Linked DNA regions of Homo sapiens. The protein of the gene in region 1 purifies or fractionates together with the protein of each later gene. This does not show direct contact. Each region holds a gene or a part of one and is shown on either strand. Other genes may lie near its edges.

The links.
Region 2: the proteins of YTHDC1 (region 1) and THOC1 purify together in Homo sapiens (pull-down; one large-scale study listed by IntAct). This does not show direct contact.
Region 3: the proteins of YTHDC1 (region 1) and IWS1 fractionate together in Homo sapiens (co-fractionation; one large-scale study listed by BioGRID). This does not show direct contact.
Region 4: the proteins of YTHDC1 (region 1) and SRFBP1 purify together in Homo sapiens (co-immunoprecipitation; one large-scale study listed by IntAct). This does not show direct contact.
Region 5: the proteins of YTHDC1 (region 1) and KRR1 purify together in Homo sapiens (co-immunoprecipitation; one large-scale study listed by IntAct). This does not show direct contact.
Region 6: the proteins of YTHDC1 (region 1) and ODF2 purify together in Homo sapiens (co-immunoprecipitation; one large-scale study listed by IntAct). This does not show direct contact.

The regions. Positions count from the first base shown.
Region 1 is NC_000004.12:68,336,591-68,340,090, forward strand, and holds part of YTHDC1 (YTH domain-containing protein 1), read right to left. Parts: intron 1,795-3,500; coding exon 1,693-1,794; intron 1,311-1,692; coding exon 982-1,310; intron 861-981; coding exon 437-860; intron 1-436. UniProt on the Homo sapiens protein: Regulator of alternative splicing that specifically recognizes and binds N6-methyladenosine (m6A)-containing RNAs.
Region 2 is NC_000018.10:216,048-219,547, forward strand, and holds part of THOC1 (THO complex subunit 1), read right to left. Parts: intron 2,923-3,500; coding exon 2,839-2,922; intron 587-2,838; coding exon 439-586; intron 1-438. UniProt on the Homo sapiens protein: Component of the THO subcomplex of the TREX complex which is thought to couple mRNA transcription, processing and nuclear export, and which specifically associates with spliced mRNA and not with unspliced pre-mRNA.
Region 3 is NC_000002.12:127,502,490-127,505,989, reverse strand, and holds part of IWS1 (protein IWS1 homolog), read left to right. Parts: intron 1-237; coding exon 238-1,306; intron 1,307-2,413; coding exon 2,414-2,603; intron 2,604-3,117; coding exon 3,118-3,175; intron 3,176-3,500.
Region 4 is NC_000005.10:121,971,975-121,975,474, reverse strand, and holds part of SRFBP1 (serum response factor-binding protein 1), read right to left. Parts: intron 1,280-3,500; coding exon 1,191-1,279; intron 161-1,190; coding exon 88-160; intron 1-87. UniProt on the Homo sapiens protein: May be involved in regulating transcriptional activation of cardiac genes during the aging process. May play a role in biosynthesis and/or processing of SLC2A4 in adipose cells.
Region 5 is NC_000012.12:75,494,610-75,498,109, reverse strand, and holds part of KRR1 (KRR1 small subunit processome component homolog), read left to right. Parts: 3' UTR 1-2,447; coding exon of another isoform or gene 2,448-2,533; 3' UTR 2,534-3,500. Other genes in the region: GLIPR1 (glioma pathogenesis-related protein 1 precursor), read right to left, coding at 2,448-2,533. UniProt on the Homo sapiens protein: Part of the small subunit (SSU) processome, first precursor of the small eukaryotic ribosomal subunit.
Region 6 is NC_000009.12:128,480,006-128,483,505, reverse strand, and holds part of ODF2 (outer dense fiber protein 2), read right to left. Parts: intron 3,294-3,500; exon of another isoform or gene 2,690-3,293; intron 1,927-2,689; coding exon 1,855-1,926; intron 691-1,854; coding exon 619-690; intron 1-618. UniProt on the Homo sapiens protein: Seems to be a major component of sperm tail outer dense fibers (ODF).

The DNA.
Region 1 (3,500 bases):
GAAATAATCTGTTTTGATTCTGAAGCCATATGATGGAAATCTAGGGGTATTTTACCAAGGAAATACTGTAATACCCAGTGGACAGGTTTCCTATGAATATACTTCAAGTACATCAGTGTTTAAATAAACTGCTGACTGGTATGAAAATCTAAGAATTTACAGAAATCTGAAATACATTTCCTTATACAGAATCAAATGGACTTGTGTTCATTTACAACACAACCATTCTGTAGCTAGGAAATGCCTTTCCTAAAATATGTAAATCTTATCCAAGATTATTCAAATGTATTTATAACATTCAAAAGCATATAAAGGATCACAAGACAATCCTATTAATATCCCCCATCTCCTCAACAATTTTATAATTTAAACATTTTCAAGACTGAAACCTATCAAGCTTTTTTTAAGACAAACTTTTACATATAAAAAGTAGTACCTGATCCATCTGTGCCTGAACCAGATCTGACAGACCCATCTGTGAAGGAAACAGATTCAGAACCAGAGTCACTGGCCTCACTTCGAGTGTCATAATCATTTCCCTCCTCTTTCTGGTCTCTCTCATCCTGTTCATATTCTTCTTCTTCCTCCTCCTCCTCCTCCTCTTCCTCCTCCTCCTCTTCCTCCTCCTCCTCTCCATCTTCATCCACCTCTTCATCTTCTTCTGCATCTTCTTCTACTTCTTCATCTTCCTCCACATCTTCTTCCACTCCTTCCTCCTCATTCTCAGTGTTGTTCCCTTGCTCATCAGAAGAACCACTGCTGCCAGTCTCATGGTCAGAGCCATATTCTTCAGAGTTCACTTCTTCCTTAGAAGACTGGCTGGATCTGCTTGCACGTCTATCCACTTCAAGCCCAATTCTCTGATGTTTAAAGAAAAAGGGAATCAGCAGTCATATAAAAGACAAGGTCAGGGTGAATAAACAGTTCTAAAGCCTCAAAAAGAATGGCTTTCTGTTTTATATCTGCAATAATATTTACTACCTCAGAACCATCTGGCGTAGGAGATTTGGCCCTCCTTTCAGGATCCCTTTTCCGGACACAGGTTTTTTCAGGTTGATTCTTATAAGGTTCTCTGGAGGCACTACTTGATAGACGAATTTTCCGATCAGCATCTAGACGCTTGTTTCTTTCAGATCTTTGATATTCCTCATTTTTATACTCTGTGGCTGACTTTCCTTTTGTACTAACTATTCTTTTGTTATTGCTAACAGATGAGCTCAGTGGCTTAGAAACCAGTTGTCTAGAATGGACAGAAGGCTTTTGTCGTTTGGTATCAGTAGATTCCATTCGATCACTTTTTCTTTTTGATCCTTTAAAATACAATGTAAAAAAAAAAAAAAGAAGTATTTGTAGTATTCCATTTATTTCACCAAAGACTGACAATAATATATACATCAGGAAGGGGGGATAGGCCTCATTTCTTTAAAAGTCTTCTGAGAGATTTCTTCTCCAGAGTTAATCTAAAAGAAAACATAGCTTTCAACTATGGGAATAAAACCATATATTTGAGAAGTTTCATATATTAGAAAAAAACAGATTATCCCTATTCATATGGATACCAGTTTATTATGTACATTTAGTGTTAACTGCCTCAAGGAACAAGCACAAAAAAGCACAGTCATTTTTTTTAAGAAATTGAATCTCCTCTATTTATACTGTTATTTCAACAAAAATAATAGAACTCTTACATACCCTTTTTCTCATTTTTATCTTGTTCACTCTCTGGATTATACAGTTCATCATCTTGTTCTGGTACTTCAGTTAAAATATCATCCAGAACATTAAGTTCTCCATCTGCAAATAAAATTAAAAATTAATAGGGAAAAATCACTATCATTGAACATGTATTTTTGAGTACTTACTAAGTGTGAGGCCACAAGCGCCTAGGAGCTTTTACTTTTATATAAAAAGCTTTACTTTTATTTCAGAATCAAGACACAAGATTAATTTCTATAAAACTAATACAGGGTAAAGAATTGGCCAGTCGTGGTGGCTCATGCCTGCAATCCCAGCACTTTGGGAGGCTGAGGCAGGCCAATCACGTGACGCCAGGAGTTTGAGACCAGCCTGGCCAACATGGCAAAACCCTGCTCTGCTAAAAATACAAAAATTAGCAGGGCATGGTGGCACATGCCTTTAACCCCAGCTACTCAGAAGGCTCAGGGACAAGAATCACTTGAACCTGGGAAGCAGAGGTTGCAGTAAGCCAAGATTGTGCCACTGCATTCCAGCCTGGGCGATAAGAGTGAGTTTCTCAAAATACACACACACACACAAACAGAAGTCTGGGCTATCTGGTCTACAAAGCCAGGAGTATACATCTCAGAAGGCATGAAAAGATATACTGAGGCATAAAAAGAAAATGCAAGAATGTCTCTATTTTTACCTCATTCTTTAATTTCTAATATTTCTGAGGGCTTTAAAATGTGTACAATAAATTAGTATACAAATACGTATGTACAACTTATAAATACACATTTACCAAAAATGTGCACTCTCCACAATTACAAAGGGAAAACGACTTTACAGTGGAGAAATGTTTCACAGGCCAAATTAACCAGATAATCAAAGTTAACATCACCAGTAATGAGACAAATCAACATCATGGACCTCCTGTAACAATGCTCTGAGAATAGAACAATGCTTTTGTAATGTTCTATGCAAAATGGAAAAGCTGAACCTACATGAGGAAAAAAATCAGACAAACCCAAATTAAAGGGCATCCAAATATGTCACTGTCATGAAACAAAGAGTAAGAACTATTTCATATCAAAGCAGACCTAGAGAGGCATGATAACTGAACACAGCCCACAATATTGGACATAATTGGAAAAACTGGTGAAATCTGAATAAAGTTTGTAAATCAGAGTAAGTAGCAATGTTATTTTTCTAATTTTGACTGTACTATGGTTAAGTCAAAGTCCTTATAACACATATTTAAGTATTTAGGGACAAAGATATATTATGTCTACAACTTACAAATGGTTCAGGAAAAAAGTGTGCACACATGCACGTACACACACAGACACACAGAATGAGACAAATGTGACAAAATGCTAACATCTGCAGAATGTGTTTGGAGAGTAAAAGAAAATTCTTCACACTGCACTTGTAGCTATTATGCTTATCTGAAATTATGTCAAACTGCAAGTTAAATGAAAAAATTATCAATGTGCTATATAATAAAAAAAACATTTAGAGCCTGCTGGTGTGGACTGTAAAAGCACAAAACTTGTTCAGAGAAGGGAACTATGACTTTATTCAATGATCATGAAAGCATAAAACTCAGTTTTGTCCCCACTTCTACCTTGTCCAACAAGATAAACCTTAGAAATACACACAAATACCATTTTAAATTTTAAAATGTACTAATGCTAATAGTAAATGTTTAAACATTAACTATTCCAATATCAAAAACATCTTTCCAAATTTAAGGTGTGCCAAAGAGGAAGTATAAAGCCATGAAAACTGATGAGACAGAACAATTACATTTGTGGCTT
Region 2 (3,500 bases), on another chromosome or scaffold:
GGTTCAAGCAATTCCCTTGCCTCAGCCTCTTGAGTAGCTGGGACTACAGGCACGTGCCACCACACCTGGCTAATTTTTTATATTTTAGTAGAGACGGGGTTTCACCATATTGGCCAGGATGGTCTCAATCTCTTGACCTCATGATCCACCCGCCTCGGCCTCCCAAAGTGCTGGGATTACAGTCGTGAGCCACCGCACCCACAGCCCTGTTGAACTTTAAATTACATGCTGTACAGAAAATTATCAGTTACTTCTTTATCAACTCATGTATTTCCTGTAAATGTATATTCCAATGTGTTTTTCCCTCATTCTAAAACATGGGAGCTTGTGGATCACTGGTTTTTCACATGATTAAGTCAGTTTTTTGCTCACATAGTGACAGCAATTTTAAAGAAGATGTCAACTAAAGGGTATGAAAAGTTGATCTATGGTACTTACCGGTAATTCCTTGGCTAGCTTTATTACCATATTTTCAAGATATTCTGGTAAACTTTTAAACTGCTGGTTGGTTGGCTGGAAGAAGTGAGGGCTTCTCCGTGCTAATAGTCTCAGGGCTCTCCAACCATAATTTGAATTGTTCACAGCCCTATAAAAAGAGGTGTCAGGCTTGTAATTTATAGCTTTGTATTTCTGTATTCCCTTCTGCTCAGTTCTGCCATGTGTAATTCTGTATTTAAGGTAAATAGCTCAAAGTGCCATTCTTTGTATTTGAATCTTATTCCTAAAGAACTTTTCAGTATGTAGTCCACTGATAATAACAAACCAATAGATGCACATGTAACTAATCACAGGAACCAACAATGCCTGAAGAGGCAGGCTCATATGCAGCAAACACATTTTCAAAGTTTCCGTTCATTTTGTTTAATTTTAACAAGTCAACAAGTGTGTGCAGTACTGGCTGGATGCAGTACGTATACAACAGGAATCATCCATCTAGCTATTTGGAATCCATGAACTGTTCCCTAATGAAGTATAACAATGATCAGGGTGGTATACCATCAGGTGAGAAACAAACTGCAGAGAAATTCTAAAGATAATGCGTCAGAAATATGCAATGCTGCGGAAGAAACCAAACCACAAATTTATTCCATTTAAGAGTTTTGGATTGGAAGTCTCTTCCTCCCCTAAGAATAGCAATTTGGTTTATTTGGTCACCTCTTATAAATAAGCATATGTTACCTTTAGGATGTGCAGGTACCACTGAAGACTTAACAAAAACTACCCATAGACACTGGGGACTCTTCCCAAGTTAACACCTGCTGTGAGGCTTTGCCTAAACAGTTAAGAGCCTTCCTCTCTGACATATCTGTTTAGACAATTTGATTATTTTAGGCATTTTCAAAATTCACTGTCAATTATACACATCATTTTTCTTATTCTCCACAAAACCCTCTTTGGAGATAATAATTTGAACTATCACTTTAGGAATGAGTCCACCTAGTCTTATGTAACAGTGATAAATTAATATTCTTTCAATCGACAAACACTTTTGAGCCAGGCACTCAGTAGCTGTGGAGAGTACCTGAGGCACAGTAAGGCAGGCATTGCTAGTGATAAACACACAAGGTATAAGACAATTTCATAAGGATGAGGAAAACTTGAGAAATGAGAAAGTGGTAAGTGCCACCTTCTCATTTGGATAGTGGTAAGTGCCGTGAAATAAAAACCACGAGAATGCAAAAGAGGAGACCAGGGAGGGGAAGAGCTTCCCAGCCAGGGGGACTTTAAGCCACGGCAACCTTGGGGAAAAAGTGGTTCAAGCAAGTGAGACAGTAAAGTGTGAAGGTCCTGACAGGAAAGGGAAAGACAGGACCAAGAGGCCTGCTGTGGTTAAAGCAGAGGGGAGGCATGGCCACACAGGAGAGTATGAGCCAGACCAAGGAGGTCTTTTAGGCCCTGGGAAGGAGTTTGGAATAGGCACTCACTGGGAGATTTTAAGCAGATTAGACTTGGACAATTATTTTAAAGATCACTGGCTGATGCATGGAGCACTGACCACAACTAGAGAGATTAGTTAAGAGGTCACAGTAATTAACAACTCTGGTCACAGGGTCACACTAGTCACAAATACTGAGTGCTAACCACATGCCCTGTAGGGTTCAAAGTGCACTGTCTTATTTAATCCTCAGAATAACCCTGTGAAATGGGTACTGTTACTATTTAACAGATGAGGAAAGGGAACTGGCGGTTTAATAATTAAATTAGCCTTAGTTGCCTAGTAAGTAAGTGGTAGAGGGAATCGAACCTATGCATTCTGACCAGAGGCCTCTTGCCTTTAAACCACTACTCTTCAATTCCTATTTAAAGCCATGAGACTGCGGTGTCACCCAGAAGGTTCTAGATAAAGAGGCTAAGACCAATTCCTGATGTTACTCCAAAATTTGAGTTAGGCAGAGGATGAGGAGGCTGAAATGGAATGTGAGGTGGAGTGGGCAACGAGGGCAAAGGGCAAACAGAAGAACCATGGATTTGGATTCTCATGGACGCCAAGAGAAGAAAACATTAAGGGGAACAGGATAGGTTAACAGCTGCTGTGAGATACTGTGCTTTGAAGGGTAGAGAGAACAGAACTAATAGTTGGAGAGAAATGGGGATCAGGGGGAGTTTTTTTTTTCTTATATTTTGAAACAAGGGTGATTCCAAGTCATGCTTAGTTAACAGGAATAATCCTTGAAATCAGGATGTGTACTAACAAGAACTTGGAACATAAACTCACCTAAGAGAAAAAGCACTATTCTATCTACTGCCTCTCTTAAGAGGCTTTCTAGTATACACACAATTCCTAAGGAAGAAACAAATTGAAGAAAATTAAAAGGAGCTAATGAGGAGCATACTTACTTATATTCATTTTCCACCATATTTTCAGGGTCTGCCTGTTCAATGGCTTCTTCAAAGAATTCCTCCAAAGTGGGCATGTGTTCCCTGAGCGGTACAAAAATAACCAGTGAGGATGGCATATATTCTTAATAATAAATACTCATGAAGTGGTGGCAGGACAAGATTGTGGGCATGTGTTCCCTGAGCAGTACAAAAATAACCAGTGAGGATGGCATATACTCTTAATAATAAATACTCATAAAGTGGTGGCAGGACAAGATTGTGGGCATGTGTTCCCTGAGCGGTACAAAATAACCAGTGAGGATGGCATATACTCTTAATAATAAATACTCATAAAGTGGTGGCAGGACAAGATTGTGGGCATGTGTTCCCTGAGCGGTACAAAATAACCAGTGAGGATGGCATATACTCTTAATAATAAATACTCATAAAGTGGTGGCAGGACAAGATTGTGGGCATGTGTTCCCTGAGCGGTACAAAATAACCAGTGAGGATGGCATATACTCTTAATAATAAATACTCATAAAGTGGTGGCAGGACAAGATTGTGGGCATGTGTTCCCTGAGCGGTACAAAATAACCAGTGAGGATGGCATATACTCTTAATAATAAATACTCATAAAGTGGTGGCAGGACAAGATTCTAATGGCCCCATACTTTTAG
Region 3 (3,500 bases), on another chromosome or scaffold:
TTACAAATCTGTTTTGATGAAGGCTGGTTATATTTCCCCATTTGGGGATCCAAATAAAACCATTTCACTGATTGGCTTTCTGTGGGGGTGTTTCTATATGGGTATAGGACAAGAATTCTCCATTTAGGTGCACATAATCCTGTATTTTAAAAAAATCACAGAAAAAATTTAATGTTTTATTATTAATGGTTTTTTTTTTTTTGCACTTTCCTAATTTTTTCTCACTTTATTTTTCAGAATGAAACTAGTGATCGAGAAGATGGCCTCCCCAAAGGACATCATGTGACAGACTCTGAGAACGATGAGCCCTTAAATCTTAATGCTAGTGACTCTGAAAGTGAGGAGCTTCACAGGCAAAAGGACAGCGACTCTGAATCTGAGGAACGTGCAGAGCCTCCTGCAAGCGATTCTGAAAATGAGGATGTCAATCAGCATGGGAGCGACTCTGAGAGTGAAGAGACCAGGAAATTACCTGGTAGTGACTCTGAAAATGAGGAACTTCTTAATGGGCATGCAAGTGACTCAGAAAACGAAGATGTTGGGAAGCATCCCGCCAGTGATTCTGAGATTGAGGAGCTCCAGAAGAGTCCTGCTAGTGACTCTGAAACAGAAGATGCTCTAAAACCTCAAATCAGTGACTCTGAGAGTGAGGAACCCCCAAGGCACCAAGCCAGTGACTCCGAAAATGAGGAGCCTCCCAAACCTCGAATGAGTGATTCTGAAAGTGAGGAGCTTCCTAAACCTCAGGTCAGTGATTCAGAAAGTGAGGAACCCCCAAGGCACCAGGCCAGTGACTCTGAAAATGAGGAGCTTCCCAAACCTCGTATCAGTGACTCAGAAAGTGAGGACCCTCCGAGGCACCAGGCCAGTGACTCAGAAAATGAAGAGCTTCCCAAACCCCGAATCAGTGATTCGGAAAGTGAGGATCCCCCAAGGAACCAGGCCAGTGATTCGGAAAATGAGGAGCTACCCAAACCCCGAGTCAGTGACTCTGAGAGTGAGGGGCCTCAGAAGGGGCCTGCCAGTGACTCAGAAACTGAGGATGCGTCCAGACACAAACAGAAGCCAGAGTCAGATGATGACAGCGACAGGGAGAATAAGGGAGAGGATACAGAAATGCAGAATGACTCCTTCCATTCAGACAGCCATATGGACAGAAAAAAGTTTCACAGTTCTGATAGTGAGGAGGAAGAACACAAAAAGCAAAAAATGGACAGTGATGAAGATGAAAAAGAGGGTGAGGAGGAGAAAGTAGCGAAGAGAAAAGCTGCTGTGCTTTCTGATAGTGAAGATGAAGAGAAAGCATGTAAGGAGTTACCTTGGGCTGTTTATCAATGGCTTTATTCATTGTCTAAGCTTGTAACTGTGGAACATTGTATCCTCTTGGTATGTCAGATCTGTGTTCTGTTATTCAGCTTAATATTCTAAAATATCAGTAGGACACTCATTTCCCCTGGTTATCATTAGCTAAGCTTAATAGTAAGTTTCCTTGGAGTTCTATTAGCACATATTAATCTCTGACTGCCTCAAAGTGATAAACCACATGTCAATAGGAATATAAAATACTGTTTTTTTTTTTTAAAACTGGAAGAGGTAATGTTTCAAAGAAATACGTTTACATAAAAACCCCTAACTGTATTAATTGTTAGCTGTGGGTCTCTTTGACACTTAGTTCACTAGATCCCATCCAAACAGTAACAGCTCCCACAGGTACATCTCTTCATTTGTTAAACATTGTTGAATATTCAGATACAGGGAAGCTTTGAGAGGATTCTATTTAGAGACACCATCTCTCTCCAGAGTGTTTCAGTCTCTGCTATCTAAGACTCCATTTGCACAGATAGTATTACTTGTCTACTTTTTTATGAAACTTATCTTTTTTGGAAAAGACATATTTCATTATAACCTCACAGTTCTTATAGGAGAAGGAAAAGGTACCAGACATGCTGTCAATTTGTTAAGGGAGATGAGAAATTTCAAACTGACCAGCAATGATAGAGGAACATGGAGACTATTCCTAGAAAGAAATATGTAGTCCTTTTTAGTTCAGTTACTACTAGGCAACATAGAAAGGATGCCAGTTTTGCCCATCAATCTAGTTTTAATTTTCTCGATTTCCCAAAAGGAAAGGTGGCTGCTTTTATATTGATGATATCTTTCTTCATCTTTTGGCCAGTTTTTCTTAAGCAAAATAACAGATAATTTGTAAGATGACTCTGAATGAGCCATTTAGTTATTTTAAAAATTCTAAACCATGTGTCAGGAGGCCCTCTGATTTTATTTTATTTATTTATTTATTTATTTATTTATTTATTTATTTTTGCTGTATACTGCCATCTTAAAGCACCTGTTATGCTTAGTAATACAATGGCTGTGATAAAATAAAATTAATGATGATTTTCTTTTTCAACAGCAGCAAAGAAGAGTCGTGTTGTCTCTGATGCAGATGACTCTGACAGTGATGCTGTATCAGACAAGTCAGGCAAAAGAGAGAAGACCATAGCATCTGACAGTGAGGAAGAAGCTGGGAAAGAATTGTCTGATAAGAAAAATGAAGAGAAGGATCTGTTTGGGAGTGACAGTGAGTCAGGCAATGAAGAAGAGTAAGTGACAGTATAACATGAGTTTTCAGGGGTTCTTAATTAGGCAGTAGAGAGGGGTCTGTGTTATAATACAATATGTCCTGCCTAATTGCATGTCTTTGGGGATTTAGTATTTTAGTTCCTGAACTGAACACACTACAATGTGGGTGAATCTCAGAATTCATCTCAGAATTAACATGTTAAGTGAAAGAAAGCAAAGAGGACATATATGATTCCATTTACATGAAGTTCAGTAGGCAAAATTTATCTGTGGTGTTGGAAGTCAAGGTGGCAGTTGTTTCTAGGATGTTGATATTGGGGACCAGCTAGAAGGGGCCATGAGAGGACTTTCTGGGGAGGCTACATGAGTGTATAGGGTGCTGGTTACATGAGTGTATATATTTGTTAAAACTCATTGAACTGAACACTGAAGATCTGCACATTTTACTGTACATAAATTCTATTTTTTAAAAAATGGTTCCTATGCAAATGAGGATAAAGCAAATGAATGTTTTTACATTTGTCTACTTTCTAGAAATCTTATTGCAGACATATTTGGAGAATCTGGTGATGAAGAGGAAGAAGAATTTACAGTAAGTATAAGATGGAAATATTTCCTCCTTGATTGTGCTTTTTTTTGGTGTTTTTATGGCAGTGATACCATTATAGATGATTCTAATAAGTAGGAATAAACAATTATGATGTATTCAAGATAAAAATCTAGAAGAGGGATTCAGGAAGTAAAATGAAAGCGTATATACAAAGACATAAAAGGAAGCTAATGGGCAAAATTGAATTAAGGGGGAAGGGACACTTTGAGACAAAGAAAGTCACTTTATAATGCTAAAGGGCAAGATTCACAATAATTAGGGAACTTCCGATTTTCACAGTGGCATTCTAGGTGATTTGGACTAACCC
Region 4 (3,500 bases), on another chromosome or scaffold:
CAAATAAGCAATACCACACACAAACAAAATGCAGGATAACAGGATACTCAGAAACATACACACATACACACCCACACAAGTCCTTACCTTCATGGCATGGATTTCTTCAAGCAATCTTTGCGCCCGTCTTTGGTTTTTTAACAGTGCATCTTCAGTACCCCTGCAAAAAATACATTACGATATGTAGCCAGGCAAAGCATTAATTTTAGACTTATAGTGTAATGGATAATCACTTCATTTCTTTTTAGAAAAGCGTAATAAATCTCTAAATAACAAACACGCCACTATCCTACACTGTCCATTTCCCCCACTCCCAAAACACACCTCAATTTACTAACCAAACCCATATGTTGGAAAATGGCAAAAATAAGTACTGTCTTGCCATTGTATTAATGACTATTACTTTTGATAGTTTGCCTTCTCTAGTTCCTTAATAACACTTTTTTAAATCAATCAATCGTACATTGTATTTAATGTAATATAAATGTCATAATTTACAATTAGAGTTTGACTATAATTTTATCAAATGAAAATTTGCTCTCTGGCATTTAAGGAAAAAATAAAGAAGGGCTATATTCTGACATATTTATGAAAGAATAGGAAATTAATCAGGAACAAAACATACTTGAAGACTAAGTATTCATGCTTACATCATAAAAAGAACTATAAATAAAATACTTTTTCACTAACACTAGTGATACTGAAAATACAAAATATTGTATTTTTCCAAAAAATTACATGGAACACAATGTTCTAATAAACACTTTCATAAGGTACTGAAGATTTCAAATTACTTAGCAATTCAAGAAAAAATGTGATATAAAATCTTCAAAACTGATTCTTAAGGTATTACTAGATTTGTTAAGCTGTATCAGTATCTTAAAATAACTTCTGATAACACAAAACACACAAGCCCAAGGGAATTTCATTCTAAAAAGACCAAAAGAGAGTTTTGCAAAAGCAGCAAAAAAATTCATCCTGTATCTTGAGCAATGATGGTCCAAACCATAGAAGGGCATGCTGACACAGCACATTCTATCTCACTCACATCATCTCCGCATACAAAACAAAAATGGTGTATAAGACATTTAATTACTTCTCTATATCCCACCCTAAACATTTTAAAGTATCAAATAAAAACAACTTTTGACATTTTATTAGTCACAAGATCATTACTTTAAATGACTAACTTTTTTGACTTCAGTCGGCCAACACTCCTGACAAGTTTTCGGATAACTAAAACTCGAATTCTCTTCACTTCTTTTCTCATCTTCACAACCTTTGAAGAATAAAGCAATAATTAGAAGAAAGGCACTTACTTCAGGAACAAACACACTTTATTTTGAGTCTTAATATTTGAGACTTAGTCTACCACTTTAACTACTTTTATTGTCTAACTATATTCGTAGCTTGATGAAATCAAACCTCTTCCATAAATAGTGAAGGAATAAATCAACAGTCTAAAAATGTGTCTGAGAGCTTAAGAAAAACAAGTTATAATTTTTTAAAAAGTCACAGTATTACCCGAGATAAGTATTTTAATGTTACACTTATATCTTGCTGGGCTTGGAATATAATAAACAGTGAGTTCCCTGAAATCACAGCCTGTCATATTCATCTTTGTATTCCCACCGTTAAAACAAAGCCTCACTCATAATGGTAGGAATTTAATTTGTTGAATGACTATTTTAATTAGCAAATTAGCTTTTAATTAGCAATTTATTTTACATATTTATAAAACAAATCTTTCATTATTTTTAGTAACAAATTATTTCAAGTATAATTTTAAAAGAAGATCCACAAACACAAGGGCATTGTGTGCAAGCATATGTGCATGTAAACATACATGCCCCCCCCCCACACACACATGCACACACATACAAATACATAATTTAAATCACCCTACTGGAGAACAATGTTTAACTCTAAGAACAAAAAGCAGAGCTATAGGCCAAAAAATGGAAATTATAGTTATAAAAAAAATACACATTATAACAGCTTTCAGTGCAATGGCATGTAATTACGGAGTTTATATTTCATCTATCAGTTACGAGGCATACATCTTAAAAATTACTCCTGGAATGTCCTTCTTCCCCTTCTTCACTTTAGGAACTATATAAAATTCAGGTTCAGATATAGTCATTCCAGTGATACCTTCAATGACTTCTTCAGTTAAGGATAACCACTCCATCCCTGGGGTCCCCACTATACAGATTCTGTCATTAAAGCATCTACCTCACTGCACTGTTACTAATGGCTCATGTGGCTGTCTTTTTCTATAGACAGCAAGCTCCTAGAAAACAGGAGTCTTGTAATATTTATATAGTGTTTTCTTTGCCCTGCAAGAGTGCCTGGCACAAAAAATTCCTCAAATTCTTCTTGCCAAAATAACATTATCAACATCATCCTGTTTCTTTAAGGCTCTTCCATTTAATTAATATCTTCTCTTACCCTTCATGTCATTCACTCCCTTATTCACTGAAGATATTAGCAACCAACTTACAATTTCTTTACACCCTAAGTTCTGCCATCATTCTGTGTAACTTGCATGTCCACTTGAATAGCCCATCTGATAATTATATCTTCACTTCTTTACTTATTTTCTAAAGACCTAATCTATTCTATCTCAGCCATCCACTTCCATGGCCACACTGTCAACCTTGTCATCACTCATAATATTCAATTTCTAAAACCATTAATTCAAATATTCCACACTGTGATCACAACCTCTATCAGCTTGCTTGTTCAACTCCACCCACCACAACCATCTTTGACTTCATTAGGACCACCAATCCACTGACTCCTACACTTAATGTTCCTCTTTTTATGCAGTTTAGATACATGATAACATCTGCCAATTTCTTAAACTCCTGCCCCTCTGGTGAGGAAACCGTAGTCCTGAATGAAAAAAACACTCTGAGTTCTTCATTGTCATATGCCAACAGCAAATACTTGTAACATTCTGTCTACTATAAATTCATCATAATTAACCTCAAGTGGACCCCCATTCTTCCTAGCCATCCTGTATTTTTCTGTTCAGTTCACTCTACAATGCCTGTTTTAAGCTTTTGCCTACTCTCCTAAATCCTCTAGTCTCCGTCCTCCTTTCTCTCTTTCAATCGTGTGGAGAAAATAATTATCAGTTGGGAACCATCATTTTTCTACTACCATGAATGCAAATGTACTTCCATGACCCATCTTCCTTTACGAATAAAGTTACAATATAAGAAATACCACTACACATATCTGAGTTTATCTTTTAACTGTCTTTTAGAGCCCATTCTCTTCTGCCTTCCTAGAACCTCTACTATGGATTATCCCTTTACCATAGCATTGTCATTCTCTTCCTTTTAATGCATTTGTTTCCCACTGATTTTTAAACATGATTGAGTCATTTTCATTAGAGACTAAATAAACATCCTCATTACATGGTTCACTAGGACCACTCCCTCTTCAGTTGTGTGGAGAACTAAGCTTTTAGAAAGAGACGTCCAAACTCA
Region 5 (3,500 bases), on another chromosome or scaffold:
AGAAACCTTTTCCACACCAGTTCTGCAGCAGTCGCTATTAGATGCTCGTGGTAGAACCCATCAATCATCTGGTCCTCTGGGTACTGGTGAGCATCCCTGGTCTTCATACCTGTGAGTGGGCTTTGTGGTGAATTACTGTAAATATGCTACCCTCACTTTTCTTGGCAGTTATGTCGATGAAATCAAGAGTGTGATGTTCTAGTTATTTTTTTTTATATATATTTTTAAATGTTCAATATTCAACTATTGAAACAAATGTACATCTGTGAACTAGCTAAAATCATCTTATGTACCACTAATATGCCCAGCACATTTTGTAAAACAGTCCTGATTTGGCCTCCAAGGGTATTTATTGAACTACCAGCAGTATCTAGGAGACCACGAAGGAATACCACGAAGGAATTTATGCTCCAGTGCTTGCCATAATTTGTCTGAGAAGGAATCTGTTAAATAAAAGCTTTTATCCTCTAACCTTTACCTTCATCAGACCTTATAAAAGGTCAAATGGTGATTCTTAAGTTTTTTAGTCACAAATCTTACTTATTCAGTATTAGTGCGAAGAGTAGAATACTTTCAAGTAAGCCTAAACTTACATGAAAACAAATTACATAAATCTAGCTCTGAGAATAGGAAATTAGTGACAAGATCAATCTGTAAGATGTTGAGCACTTATCTGAAGTAAATGGGTAATGAGTTTCACATCTTATAAATACAAGTTAGCATGTGTTTTCTCAAGAGTCCAAGGGTTTTCATTATTGGACTACAGCTTTAATCTTCTAAATGTTATTCCCCAAGATTAAAGAGCATCTCAAGTTAGATCACCAAAGATCAAAAGCTAAAACCAGAAGTATTTTTGTCATTGTGGTGGTGGTAGTGTTACTAATTGCCTAGATTTTTAAAGGGAAACATTTTTTTCACTGGGTTGTTTCGTTGAAAAAAATAGAAGCAGAAACTTGCCCAAAGTCACAGTGGTCAAACTGGAAATTGCACCAAAACTTGGCATACTGGTTCTGAAATCCATAGTTTTAGCCCTTATGTATACTGGTTAATTTGGAAGGAAGAAATATATACGTTCTGAAGTGAAGAGTGAGTGAAAGGAAGAATTCAGTGAATACATTGATACCTTGATATTATCTGCATTGTGGCTACATGTTACTTTTCTTCACAAGAGTGATATAAGTGAAATAAAGAATGATTGGACTGGGAGAAAAATGGCTCAGAAAACTTTGCAAAAGTACGACTGTATGTAAAGATAAGTATTCAACATTAAATGGGAAGGAGGAGAGCAAGCAGTTTAATATATAGAATTTTATAATTTTAGGCCTGCAAGGGACCTTATAAAACATGAGCAATGGAACACTTTTTTCCAAACTAAATTTCGTGCAGTGGAACTTGGCCGACTCTGTCCTTCCTCTATTCTAAGCACCCTACTCTAGCCCGGCTGCTCTGAGTTCAGTTTGTTACAAATATGGACACGAAAGTACCACAGGCTTTGCACAGCTTAATTGAAGTTTCCCCTTCACACCATGGTAAAAAAACATACTGGGATGGAAGGGTTTGTGTCTAGAACAAGAACAAGAAATAAACTCTTGGTCACTTACTAATATTTCAAAATCACAAAGCAGAATTTTGCTTGGATGTTTAGTAAAACATCCTTGGAAATTTAACTGCTTGCAGCTTCTACACTTCTTCATTAAATGCTGTCTGGCTAATAAAAAGTGCCATGTTGCAGCTTTATTTTATTTTCATTTTTTGGAGATAGACCCTCACTGTGTCACCCAGGCTGGAGTGCAGTGGTACAATCTCTGCTCACTGCAACCTCCACCTCCTGGGCTCAAGTGATTGTCCTGCCTCAGCCTCCTGAGTAGCTGGGGTTACGGGCGTCCACCACCACACCCAGCTAGTTTTTGTATTTTTAGTAGAGGGGGTTTTTGCCATGTTGGCCAGGCTGGGCATGGTGGCATGGTAATCTCAGCTACTTGGGAGGCTGAGGCAGGAGGATCGCCTGAACCCGTGAGATGGAGGTTGCAGTGAGCTGAGATCACACCACTGCACTCTAGCATGGGTGACAGAGCAAGACTCTGTCTCAAAAAAAAAAAACAAAAAAAAAAACGAAAACAGAATTCTGTTTGTTTGGATGACCTGTTATACTTATTTTTGATCTTGCTGAAATAAGCAAATCTTAGGAATCTTAGTCTACAGTTTCTGACAGTTTTTTTTGTTGTTGTTGTTTGACCAATTAGAACTAAATAAAAAGAACGTGATTTTCACATTTAAATTTCTCTTAAATGTATTCCTAGAACAGTAAGCCATTGGTTTAATTGCTACTTGATGCCAGTTTCCTTGAAGATAGCCGTTAAGATAAAACATGGTTTCATTGTTAATTCTGTAGAAAGTTACATGTTACTATTATGTTATTCTATTGGTGTATTGTTCCTTTTACTCACCACAGAGATTGTCCAAACACTTGTCATTATTGGGGCAGGCACTGCAGGTGGCTCCTCTCTTATATGGCCAAGTTGGGTAATTCCCTCTGTAAAGCAGAAGAAGGATGTCCATTAGAAGTTTTTCGGTTTTTTAAAATTGCAATTTACTATGAATCCTTAACTAAATCCAGAAGAATAGTGGAGTGAAGTACAAAGGTCCAGAGAGTTGGTAATAGAAGTGAAGACAGGAAGGCAGAAATGGAAGGCTGCTAATATTTGCATAGTTCATTCTATGTACCTGTGTCTATGCACCTGTTTTAATCTGCATCCCATTTAATTGTGACAGCTCTGAGAGGAAGTTATTCTTGTTTTACAGATGAGACAAAAGATGTAAGAGATACCTTTAATCACAATTTATACACTTCAGAGTCAGAGGAAACCTGGATTTAACTCCAGGGCTGTGCTCCCTCTCTTTACCTACCCTCTGGCCTATATGATTACTGCCATTTAAAAAACTGTCCATCTTAGAAAAGCTATGGTGACCCACATTCAATATTCTCAGTTGGTCAGCCCTCCATAATTTTCACTGGATAGGAGCCATTTGGCTGGTGCCTTCCAAAAAAATAATAAATAATGGTATGGGGGAATTTCTAAAGTACAAATTGTTTTCACATACAAGATGTGATATGAATAATAGCTGCTAATTAGTGAGCACTACCATGTGCTTGTCTTTGTTCTAAACAACCTTGAATGAAATAATCTTCACAAAAACCCTATGAGGAAGTTACTGTTGTCTATTTATACCCATTATATAGCTAGAGGCTGAGTCACAGAGTATAAGTAATTGACCAAGGTCACAGACTAGAAAGTGAAATAATATCCAAGCATTTTATATCCCCATAAATATCCTCATAGTAGTAATGGGGAGAGGGGGCACATTTATCTCAATGAACCTGCCATTGCACTAATTTTTTTTGGAACTCTGCTTTTGGAAAAAGTTCTAAACTTTTTTGTGTAATCGTACCCTTTGGCAGTCTGGTGAGGCCTATGGGCTCTTTCTCAACATAGTTTGTT
Region 6 (3,500 bases), on another chromosome or scaffold:
GCTCAAGTGATCCTCCCATCTCAGCATCCAGAGTAGCTGGAACTACAGGTGCATGCCACCACACCTGGCTGATTTTTTAATTTTAATTTTAATTTTGTAGAGATGGGGTCTCCCTGTGTTGCCCAGGACAGTCTCAAACTCCTGGCCTCAATGAGTCCTCCTGCATTGGCCTCCCAAAGTGCTAGGGAGTGGCCTAGGCTGGTCTCGAAAAAGTGCCAGACATGAGCTACTGCACCCGGCCCAAAGACAGGATTTGAACCCAGCTCTCTGCATATCCATTATATTCTACTGGCTCATAAAAATGCACAACTGCGGCTGGGCGCAGTGGCTCATGCCTGTAATCCAGCACTTTGGGAGGCCGAGGCAGGCAGATCACGAGGTCAAGAGATCAAGACCATCCTGGCCAACATGGTGAAACCCCGTCTCTACTAAAAATACAAAAATTAGCTGGGCGTGGTGGCGCACGCCTGTAGTCCCAGCTACTCGGGAGGCTGAGGCAGGAGAATCACTCAAATCCGGGAGGCAGAGGTTGCAGCGAGCTGAGATCGCGCCATTGCACTCCAGCCTGGCGACAGAGCGAGACTCCGTCTAAAAAAAAAAAAAAAAAAAGCACACTACCTTCTCACATTGTATTTCCTGAAGGAGCTCTTCCACCTCCTTGTCCTTGTCTTGCAGCAGTAACAGCAGGCGCTGGGAGAGAACACAGGCTGTCAGGTGCCCCTGGGAAGGGCAAAGAGGCCCGGCCCAGGGAGGACAGAGATTTGTGAGTACCTGGCCACTGGGGCCCAAGGTCCTACATACATTGGCCCATGTCAGAGATTCTGGTAGGAAGCACCTAACATATGCATTAAAACATTTTTTTAAAACAATGAACATGTATTTATTTTGCAATTTAAGAACAGCAATGTTAACTGTAGAAAACATTGAGAACACACCAAAAAAATCCTCCAAAGAAACCCCGTAACCCCCCATGCAGAGATAACCAGTTAATGCACATTGAAACTCATATGCTCAGCACCGTTAAAAAAAAAAAGTCATATGCCTACTTCGTTCCATAGCCTAAAAGCTCATGTTTACCATAATGTGATTAAATCTTCTGTGTCTTTTGAAAGAGCTGCTTGACGGTTCAAGTTACTGATGTATATCATAACTTAACAAGGGTTCTTGAGCTGGGAATGCACATTTAGGCATTATCGCCGAGCTTGCTGCATCTCCACTCCTTCCTCAACTAAGCATCAGAGGCCACAGACCACACCTTGGGAAACTGGGCCTCCGTCTCCCTCCCCTCTCTTGGAGACTTACAAAAGCATTAATACAGCAGACACTCCAAAAAAGTCTTGAAAGAAGCTGTTGAACTTCATGTTCAGGCCAGCCTATGGTTTCCCAAATTTAACTGGCTATGGAACCTCCCCTTCGGTTTCTTGCACTCATTAACATCTTGAGGAACTTAGGGTTCCATGAACAGACTTTGGAACATGCTGCTTTGGGAGAGATTCCTAGAATTAGGATTACTGAGTCCAAAGGTGTGTACTTTTTGATGGCTTTGAATCCATAATACTAATTTGATGGAAATCCAGCTTTAACAGACACGGATGATTTACAAATCCAACATCATCATTACCCTCTCTATGTTGGTGTCCAGCTTTGTGGCTCAAGGTCTCAAGTAACTAACTAGACAAGCCTATCAGAACAAGCGTGACAGGAGGACATCAGCCCATTTTACAGATCGTGAAACTAAGACCTAGCGAAATGCTCCAGCCCTCCTGCCTTGATCCAAGCACCTCTACACTTTGTAGTGGAACGACGCTCTTGCCACCTGTACCCACTAGAGTAGACAAGGGCAGCCTTAGTTACCGCTTTCTCTGAGTCGGCCTCCGCCAGCCGTTTCAGCAGTGCTCCTTGTTGCTCCATTAGTCTTTCAGAATCCTTCAAAGAAAGGCAAAGGAAAAAGTCAAGTCATTAAGCAATAAACCCAGATGTCTACATTTTATTGATTCTTTACCTTTTCCAAAAATTGTATTTTTTTTTTTTTTTAGAGTCTTACTCTGTTGCCCAGGCTGGAGTGCAGTGGTGCAATCATGGCTCACTGCAGCCTGGTCCTTCTGGGCTCAAGCCATCCTCCCATCTCAGCCTCCAAAGTAGCTGGAACAACAAGCATGCACTACCATGCCCAACTTTTTAAACATTATTATTATTTGTAGAGTTGGAGGGTCTCCCTGTTTGCCCAGGCTGGTCTTGAACTCCTGGGTTCAAACAATCTGCCTGCTTTGGCCTCCCCAAGTGCTGGGATTACAGGTGTGAGCCACCACACCTGGCCCAAAAAACTGTAGTTCTAATTTGAAAAGTAATGTGAATATATTCTCACTATAAAATAGTGAATGCTAATAAAGCTACAGTTCCTCCTGTACCCACCTCCAAACCCTACCCTACTGCTATTAGTTTGAGGAGTATCCTTCCCATCCTTTTTCTCTACATCTACAGAGAAATACTGTATTTCTCTGTATTGAAAATACTGTACAGAATACTGTATTGAAATACTGTTTCTCTGTAATGAAACAGCATTTTGCTGCATCAAGAGAAATACTGTTTGTCTCTGGGGGAAGGGGAAAGGGATTCATGTGTAACTTTAGGAAAATAATATCATATTGTATTTATGTGTTAATTTTTTTTAATTTTTTTTATTTTTTAGAGAGGAAGTCTCGCTCTTGTCCCCCAGGCTGGAGTGCGATGGCACGATCTCGGCTCACTGCAACCTCTGCCTCCCAGGTTCAAGCGATTCTCCTGCCTCAGCCTCCCGAGTAGCTGGGATTACAGATAACTGCCACCACGCCCGGCTAATTTTTGTATTTTTAGCAGAGACAGGGTTTCACCATGTTAGCCAGGCTGGTCTCAAACTCCTGACCTCAGGTGATCTGCCCGCCTTGGCCTCCCAAAGTGCTGGGATTACAGGCGTGAGCCACCATGCCCAGCTGTTACTTGATTTTTAAAAACAGCTTTATTGAGATATAAATTTGAACACCATTTAAAGTGTACAGCATGGTGACTATAATTAATGATGTATTATATACTTGAAATCTGCTAGGAGATCTTAAGTGTTGTCACCACACACACACAAAAAGGTAACCATGTGACGTGATGGATGTGTTAATCAGCTTGATTGAGGTGGTCACTTTACAATGTATATGGGTATCAAATCATCACGATGAACATCTTAAAATGTATACTACTTCTGTTTGTCAAATATACCTCAATAAAGCTAGAAGAAAAAATAAAGTATACAATTAAATGGCTTTGGTATATTCCATTATTAACTTTTAAAAATTGTGGTAAAATATATGTAACATAAAACTTGTCATTTTAACCTTTTTATTTCTTTTAGAGACACAGTCTAGCTCTGTCACCCAAGCTGGAGTGCATGTTGTAATCATGGATCATAGCTCACTGCAACCTTGATATCCTGGACTCAAGTGATCCTCCCACCTCAGCCTCCTCAGTAGCTG